Regions from separate parts of the Homo sapiens genome. Here all the other regions are linked to region 1. Evidence: fine-mapped expression QTL. A gene starts in region 1. Each other region holds a variant in brackets. All regions are shown on one strand. Distances are from middle to middle. Region 1 holds the start of CLEC17A (C-type lectin domain containing 17A). Region 2 has its middle 7.7 kb from the start of SNORA104. Region 3 overlaps ADGRE3 (adhesion G protein-coupled receptor E3).

Region 1 (2,853 bases):
GAACTGCTCCGTTTCCAACCTGGAAACCCCTCCTCAGACACCTTAGGCAACCTGGTGGTCCCCTGCTCCCAAAACATCACCATATTGATGCCAAACTTAGTGCAGACGCCCGATCGCCTAGTTCACAATCGCCCAGAACTCCTGGGCTCAAGTGATCCTACTGACTCAGCCTCCCAAGTAGCTGGGACTACAGACATGTGCCACCACACACGGCCCAAACCTCTATTTTTTTTTTTTTTTGGCAGAGATAGGGTCTTGCTATGTTGCCCTGGCTGGTCTCAAATTCCTGTCCTCAAGCGATCCTCCCACCTTGACCTCCCAAAGTATCAAGACTACAGACGCACACCACTGCAGCTGGCCCAAACCTCCACTTTAACAACCACTTATCAGTCTCTTGTTGAACCCTGTGCTATGCCTTGGGTTTGAGATCCAAGTCTAAATAAAACCTGGGCTTTGGGTAGAAAGGTGAGGAGACTGGGAGCCCACAGTCCACTCCCAGTTTCTCAAGCACCAGCTTTTGTAACTCAGAGACTTTGCACCTAACTGTTCTCTCCTGGACTTCTCTTCTTAAGATATGTCTACTCATCCCTCAAGCCCCACCCCAAAGTCCCTTCCTCTATTTGAGCCCTCAGTCCCCCAAGGATTTTGCCAATCTCCTGACCCCTCCTCTCTCACCCTGCTCACCAAGACTGTGCCCAAACCCACCTCCGCCATCAGACTGACAGGTCGTCCTGGGCAGGGTGTGGGTTCCACAGTGCCCGGCATGGGCTGGATACAGAGGAGACTGACTATGTGTCTACAATGCCCAACCAATGCCCACTGGAGACCCCATTCCCTGTATTCCCCCAGGTCACACTCCAAAAAGTCCTCTTACCTGGCTTGGGAGGAAGGTCCTTGTAGGGAGGTGTTGAGTTCTCATAGTCATCATCCTCCTCCTCCTCCTCCATGGTCCCTTCCAGGGGAAAGGCAAGTCAGAGCCCAGCCATTCCCTCCTCCCTCCATCCCTCAAGCCCTGGTCTCTGCCTCAGCTGCCCCATGGTGGGGATTCTGTACCCTGGGTCCTGACCACACCTAGGCCCCAGCCCCAGCCTGGCCGGGGCCTTACCTGGTGGGTCCGGGTACCCAGTGATGGAATACAGATTATGCATGTCTAGCACAGGGAACCTGACAAGTGGCAGCCAGGGCTTGGCAACCTCTGCCCCCTGTCTCTCCGACTCAGGCGTCTGGGGGCTCTCTCAGTTCCCTTTTCCTTTCAAAGTCAAATACATGCAAATTCATTTTGACAGGAAGCCCTCAGACCTCACACGTGCTCACACAAACACACACACACACACACACACACATACACACAGAGCCTTTCTCCCCAGTTTGGATTCACGCACAGAAGGAATAATGACAACTGGCCTGGTGTGGTGGCTCTCGCCTGGAATCCCAGCACTTTTAGAGGCTGAGGTGGATGGATCACTTAAGGCCAGGAGTTCGAGACCAGGTTGGCCAACATGGTGAAACCCAGTCTCTACTAAAAATACAAAAATTAGCCAGGCGCAGTGGCAGGCGCCTGTAATCCCAGCTACTCAGGAGGCTGAGGCAGGAGAATCGCTTGAACCTGGGAGATGGAGGTTGCAGTTAGCCGAGATCACGCCACTGCACTCCAGCCTGAGTGACAGAGTGAGACTCTGTCTCAATAAATAAATAAATTAATTTTTTAAAAAACATTAAATATTAATTAATTAATTAAGGGTCTTGAGATGGATGGTTTATCCTGGATTACCTAGGTGGGCCTTAAATGGCTTTACAGGCCAGGCATCGTGGCTCACGCCTGTAATCCCAGCACTTTGGGAGGCCGAGACAGGCAGATCACGAGGTCAGGAGATCGAGACCATCCTGGCTTACACAGTGAAACTCCGTCTCCACTAAAAATACAAAAAATTAGCTGGGTGTGGTGGCGGGTGCCTGTGGTCCCAGCTACTCGGGAGGCTGAGGGAGGAGAATGGCGTGAACCCAGGAGGTGGAGCTTGCAGTGAGCCGAGATCGCACCACTGCACTCCAGCCTGGGTGACAGAGCGAGACTCCGTCTCAAAAAAAAAAAAAAATGGCATTACAAGGGTCCTCGTAGAAGGGAAACAGAAGGAGATTTGACACAAAAAAAAGGCAATGTGGTCACTAAAGTTATGCTGGCTTTGAAGATGCAAGAAGGAGCCATATGCTAAAGAATGCAACTGCAGAGGCTGGAAACAGCAAGAAAATGGATTCTCACGCTGCAGCCTCTTAAAGAAGCATGGCCCAGCCCATGAACACCTGGGTTTCAGCAGTGAGACTGATGTTGGTCTCCTGACTCCAGAACTATAAAATAATCTGGCCGGGTGCAGTGGCTCACACCTGTAATCCCAACACTTTGGGAGGCCGAGGTGGGTGGATCACGTGAGGTCAGGAGTTTAAGACCAGCTTGGCCAACATGGTGAAATCCCATCTCTACTAAAAATACAAAATTAGCCAGATATGGTGGCGCGCACCTGTAATCCCAGCTACTCAGGAGGCTGAGGCAGGAGAATCGTTTGAACTCGGGAGGTAGAGGTTGCAGTGAGCCGAGATCACATCATTGCACTCCTGCCTGGGCAACAAGAGTGAAACTCCATCTCAAAAAAATAAAATAAAATAATCCATATAATCCATTTCTGGCCAGGCGCGGTGGCTCACGCCTGTAATCCCAACACTTCGGGAGGCTCAGACAGGTGGATCACTTGAGGTCAGGCATTCGAGACCAGCCTGGCCAACATGATGAAATCCCATCTCTACTAAAGTTACAAAAAAAAAAAGAATAGCTGGACATGATAGCGGGCACCTGTAATGCCA
Region 2 (2,853 bases), 32 kb before region 1:
CACACACCTGTAGTCTCAGATACTCTGGAGGCGAAGGCGGGAGGATTGCTTGAACCCAGGAGTTCAATGTTGCAGTGAGCTATGATTGCACCACTGCACTCTAGGTTGGGCAACACAGCGAGAACCTGTCTCTCTAATTTTTTTTTTTTTTTAGCAGAGTCTCTCTGTTGCCCAGGCTGGAGTGCAGTGGCATAATCTCAGCTCACTGTAACTTTCGCCTCCCGGGTTCAAGCAAATCTCCTGCCTCAGCCTCCTGAGTAGCTGGGATTACAGGCACGCACCACCACGCCCGGCTAATTTTTGTATTTTTTAGTAGAGATGGGGTTTCAACATGTTGCCCAGGCTGGTCTCGAACTCATGGCCTCAAGCGATCCACCTGCCTCGGCCTCCCAAAGTGCTGGGATTACAGGCGTGAGCCACCACACCTGGCCAGAGATGCTGTCTCTCTAAAAAAAATTTTTTTTAATTTTAAAAATTAACCAAAAATGTGTTAGTTGAGCAGGCTATCTCTCTAGGCAGGTGGAGCTTTACCCTAGTGGGGACTTTCAGGAGATAATGTGGAACATGCATCTCAGAGTCACCTCTCCCGAGGAACGAGGGAGCTGGGGTGGGAGATGGAAGTTGCAGTGAGCCAAGATCACACCACTGCACTCCAGCCTGGGCAACAGAGTGAGACTCCATCTCAAAAAAAAAAAAAAAAAAAAAAAGAAGGCAGCTGTAGAAAGAGATCAACAAACAGTGGGAGGCACAGATGGAATCTGAATCCCAGTTCTGCCATTTACCCACTAAATGACAATGGACAAGCCGTGAGACCCCACCTCTGGGCCTCAGTTTGCCCAGGTATAAAATGGGGTTGGTTAGCCAGGTGTAGTGGCACACACCTATAGCCACAGCTACTTGGGAGGCTGAGGTGGGAGGATCACTTGAGCCCAGGAGGTTGAGGCCACAATGAGCTGTGATTGCACCACTGCACTTCAGCCTGGGTGACAGAGTGAGACCCTGTCTTTAAAAAAAAAAAAAAATGGGGGCCGGGCACAGTGGCTCACACCTATAATCCCAGCACGCAGCACGTTGGGAGGCTAAGGCAGGCAGATCACTTGAAGCCAGGGGTTTGAGACCAGCCTGGCCAACATGGCAAAACCCCATCTCTAGT[A/G]AAAATACGAAAAAATTCACTGGGCATTACGGTGTACCTGTAATCCCAACTACTTGGGAGGCAGAGGCAGAAGAATGGCTTGAACCCAGGAGGCAAAGGTTGCAGTGAGCCGAGATCACACCACTGCACTCCAGCCTGGGAGACAGAGTGAGACTCTGCCCAAAAAAAAAAAAAGATTGGCGGGCGTTGGTAAATATTCCAACCTCACAAAGTCATGGTGAAGATTCAATGAGAGCCACTGCATTTATTTACCACACAATATATGTTTGATAAACCATGGTTATTATTTTTATCCAACTGTTGCTCCCCTGGACCTAAAGTGGTAAAAAGTGACCTCTTTCATATTTACCTCTCTGCAATTAGATAATCATGAGAGATGTGGAAGGGAGATAGGTTGGGACCAGTTCCACCAGGGGCCTCCTAGAGACGTGACCACAGACCCCTGCTTCCCCATTTCTCAATACGCATATCAGAAAACAACTTCCCTCTTCTGAAATGTGGGAACTTCCCCTGACCCCAGATAAAGTTGCTTGACATAACAGTCCCCTGGGTGGAGGGTTTACAACACGACACCCACCCACTCAGCAGGCTGCGGACAGTACAGGAGCTGGCTTTGGTAGTGATGCATCAGGGCAGCTGCAGAGGTGGGCAGAGGTGAGAAGAGAGGACAGACAGAACCAAAACTCAGTAGTGGGGTCGTGCCTGTGAAATGCCACTGCACTCCAGCCTGGGCCACGTCCTGAGAACCCATCTCTTAAAAATAAATAACGAGGCTGGGTGCAGTGGCTCACACCTGTAATCCCAGCACTTTGAGAGGCCAAGGCGGGTGGATCACTTGAGGTCAGGAGTTCGAGACCAGCCTGGCCAAAGTGGCGAAATGCCGTCTCTACTAATAATACAAAAATTAGCCGGATGTGGTGGCGCACACCTGTAATCCCAGCTACTCAGGAGGCTGAGGCACAAGAATCGCTTGTACCCAGGAGGAGGAGGTTGCAGTGAGCCGAGATCATGCCACTGTACTCCAGCCTGGGTGACAGAGTGACACTCCATCTCAAAAAAAATTTTTTTAATAACGAAATAAAAGAACAAGTAGATTTAAAACAAATCAAAGAAACAGGAAGTGAAATCAGCTCCGACCTCTCCCACCACCTGCTCTCCTCACAGTCTCCTTGCTATAAGCACCTGTTCTCAGACAAAACAGGAAAGATTCTGCTATTGATTAAGGGAGCTTATTGATCAATAAATTGATCGCAATCCTTGTATTTTAGGAGGCTGAAGCAGGAGGATTGTTTGAGACCAGGAGTTTAAGCCCAGTCTGGGCAACAAAGCAAGACCCCTGTCTATACAAAAAAAAAAAAAAATTAAAATTAGCTGGGTGTGGTGGGGGCACACCTGTAGTTCTAGTTATACAGGAGTCTGAGGACGGAGGATTTCTTGAGCTCAGGTGTTTGAGGCTTCAGTGAGCTATGATTACAACACTGCACTCCAGCCTGGGCGACAGAGTGAGACCTTGTCTCAAAAAATAAAATAAGGCCAGGCATGGTGGCTCACGCCTGTAATCTTAGCACTTTAGGGGGCTGAGGTGGGCGGATCACTTGAGGTCAGGAGTTCGAGACCAGCCTGGCCAACATGGCAAAGCCCTGTCTCTACTAAAAATACAAAAATTAGCCAGGCATGGTGGCACGTGCCTGAAATCCCAG
Region 3 (2,500 bases), 47 kb before region 1:
TATACATATATAACACAATGTATATTTTTATATACACTATCACTATATATTGTGATTATATGTTGTGATAGTGTATATAAAATATATATGTACATATATATATTGTGTGTGTATATATGCCATAAATACTATAAATAGGATGGCCTCATATCTCAGCTTACCTGGAACAGTCTCAGTTTATGTCTGTCGACACAATGTAATTATTAATAGTATCCCTTTCATTTTTTATTATTATTTTTATTCTTATTGATATATAATATTTATATACATTTACAAAGTATTTGTGATATTTTGATTCATGCATAAAATGTGCAATGATCAAATCAGGGTATTTAAGGTACTCATCACCTCAAACATTTATCATTTCTTTCTGTTAGGAACAGTACACCTCCTTTTGATCACAAAAGCCTTCCTGTTTGAATAACAAATTATATGACCCCGGCCGGGTGGGGTGGCTCACACCTGTAATCCCAACACTTTGGGAGGCCGAGGCAGGTGGATTATTTGAGGTCAGTCGTTCGAGACCAGCCTGGCCAACATGGTGAAACCCCTTCTCTACTAAAAATACAAAGATTAGCTGGGTGTGGTGACGTGCCTGTAATCCCAGCTACTCGGGAGGCTGAGGCTGGAGAATCGCTTGAACCCATGAGCTGAGATCACACCACTGCACTCCAGCCTGGGCCACAGAGCGAGACTCCGTCTCAACAAAAAAAATTATATGACCCCTGTCTATAAATGATAAGAGTGAGAGAGAAAGCACCCAGGTTTTCAAATGCCTTATGCATGTCTGGTACTAACTTTGTCCCATACATTGTCCTAAATACTTTCCCATTAAAGTCTCATGTAATCTTTATAGCAACCCCACGAAATAGGACAATTATTAAGATAAGGGAACTGAGGCTGGGTGCAGTGGTTCACGCCTTTAATCCCAATACTTTGGGAGGCCAAGATGGGTGGATCTCTTGAGGTCAGGAGTTCAAGACCAGCCTGGTCAACATGGCGAAACCCCATCTCCACTAAAAATAACAAAAATTAGCAGGGCATGATGGTGCATGCCTGTAGTTAGTCCCAGCTACTGGGGAGGCTGAGGCAGGAGAATCACTTGAACCCTGGAGGTGGAGGTTGCAGTGAGTCGAGATCATGTCATTGTGCTCCAGCCTGGGCAACAGAGCAAGACTCCATCTCAAAAATAAAATAAAATAAAATAAAATAAAATAA[G/AATAAG]ATGAGGGAGCTGAGTTGCAAGAAGGTAAAGCAGCTTTCACAAGATCACACAGGTAGCCAGTGCTGGCTTCCATTTAAACTCAGGTAGTCTAGCTCCAGAGTTCTTACTATTAACAGCTAACTAGAGGGGTGTTCATGCTCATTATTAGTTTTTTGACATCCTAATCTCTGACTTCCTCCTCCCAGGATGCTGGCTTTCAAAGCAACAGCTCAGCTCTTCATCCTGGGCTGCACATGGTGTCTGGGCTTGCTACAGGTGGGTCCAGCTGCCCAGGTCATGGCCTACCTCTTCACCATCATCAACAGCCTCCAAGGCTTCTTCATCTTCTTGGTCTACTGCCTCCTCAGCCAGCAGGTAAACACTGACCCCTTTCTTTGTTATTTAAACTTAAGAAAATTTTGGAAATGGAGTTCAATGGGGATTTAAGTTGACATTCTCTAAATGTTCCACATGAGATTATAATCCACCTGTAAACACTCTCTCTATTTTCTCTACTTTAAAAATGCTACTAGTTGTTAAGATACATCATTTATTAACACATTTCAGAATATAAATAATTGCTATGTCAAAAAAAAATCATGCCTTTTTCTCAGTTTTCCCACTCGTAATAGTCAGCTAATGCTGTGTAACAAACAACCTCAAAAAATCTCATTGGTTTAAACACAAATATTTGCTTTTCTTATTCTGGGGTCTACAGGTCTATTGGGGTTCACCTGATCTTAGCTGAGCTCAGCTTGCCTTTGCTCCAGGATGCAGATCAGATTTAGGCCTGCTCCTTGTGACTCATCCTGAGGCTTAAGCAGAAGGGGGAGCAACTCCCCAGCAAATATTCTTCTCCTAACAATGCTGAAATCACAAAGAGGCAGACCCTACTGGGCAAGGTCACTCAAGCCTGTGATTCTTCCTCTACTAATATCCCATTAGCCAAAGAAAGTCACACACCCAAGCCCAAAGTCAATGAGAAAAGAACACTCAACCCACCAAGAGACTAAGACAGAGTGTAATACAACTACAAAGGAGTGAATCGTGGAGATCAACAATGCAGCTAACACACCACTTCACATGAATTATTTTTTTTCCAACTACTATTTTATTTACATTACTACCTTAAGTTACATGGAAAAAAACACCCAAGCAGTTCTGCCCTATTTCAGAAAAAGTTTCCAATCGGCAGGGTGCAGTGGCTCACGCCTGTAATCCCAGCACTTTGGGAGGCCAGCACAGGGGGATCACTTGTGCTCAGGAGTTTGAGACCAGCCTGACGAACATGGCGAAACCCCA

Evidence for each region. PIP is the estimated chance that this variant, and not a neighbour inherited with it, causes the effect.
Region 2: its variant is fine-mapped to the expression of CLEC17A in whole blood (INTERVAL, PIP above 0.99).
Region 3: its variant is fine-mapped to the expression of CLEC17A in whole blood (INTERVAL, PIP 0.96).

Annotation. Positions count from the first base shown.
Region 1 is chr19:14,581,456-14,584,308 of GRCh38, reverse strand. It overlaps CLEC17A (C-type lectin domain containing 17A), which reads right to left and starts at 1,225. Exons shown (of 14, transcript NM_001204118.2): 1 at 1,106-1,225; 2 at 875-952. The coding sequence starts at 1,148. It also overlaps the pseudogene RN7SL337P. RefSeq lists an enhancer at 941-1,110 and a silencer at 1,452-1,595.
Region 2 is chr19:14,613,057-14,615,909 of GRCh38, reverse strand. It overlaps a transcript of ADGRE3 not described here. Among named protein-coding and RNA genes, the nearest start is that of SNORA104, 7.7 kb to the left of the region's middle. RefSeq lists a silencer at 1,635-1,684. The variant A/G (reference allele first, on the strand shown) is at 1,154.
Region 3 is chr19:14,629,112-14,631,611 of GRCh38, reverse strand. It overlaps ADGRE3 (adhesion G protein-coupled receptor E3), which reads left to right. Exons shown (of 16, transcript NM_032571.5): 14 at 1,405-1,573. Among named protein-coding and RNA genes, the nearest start is that of SNORA104, 8.1 kb to the right of the region's middle. The variant G/AATAAG (reference allele first, on the strand shown) is at 1,219.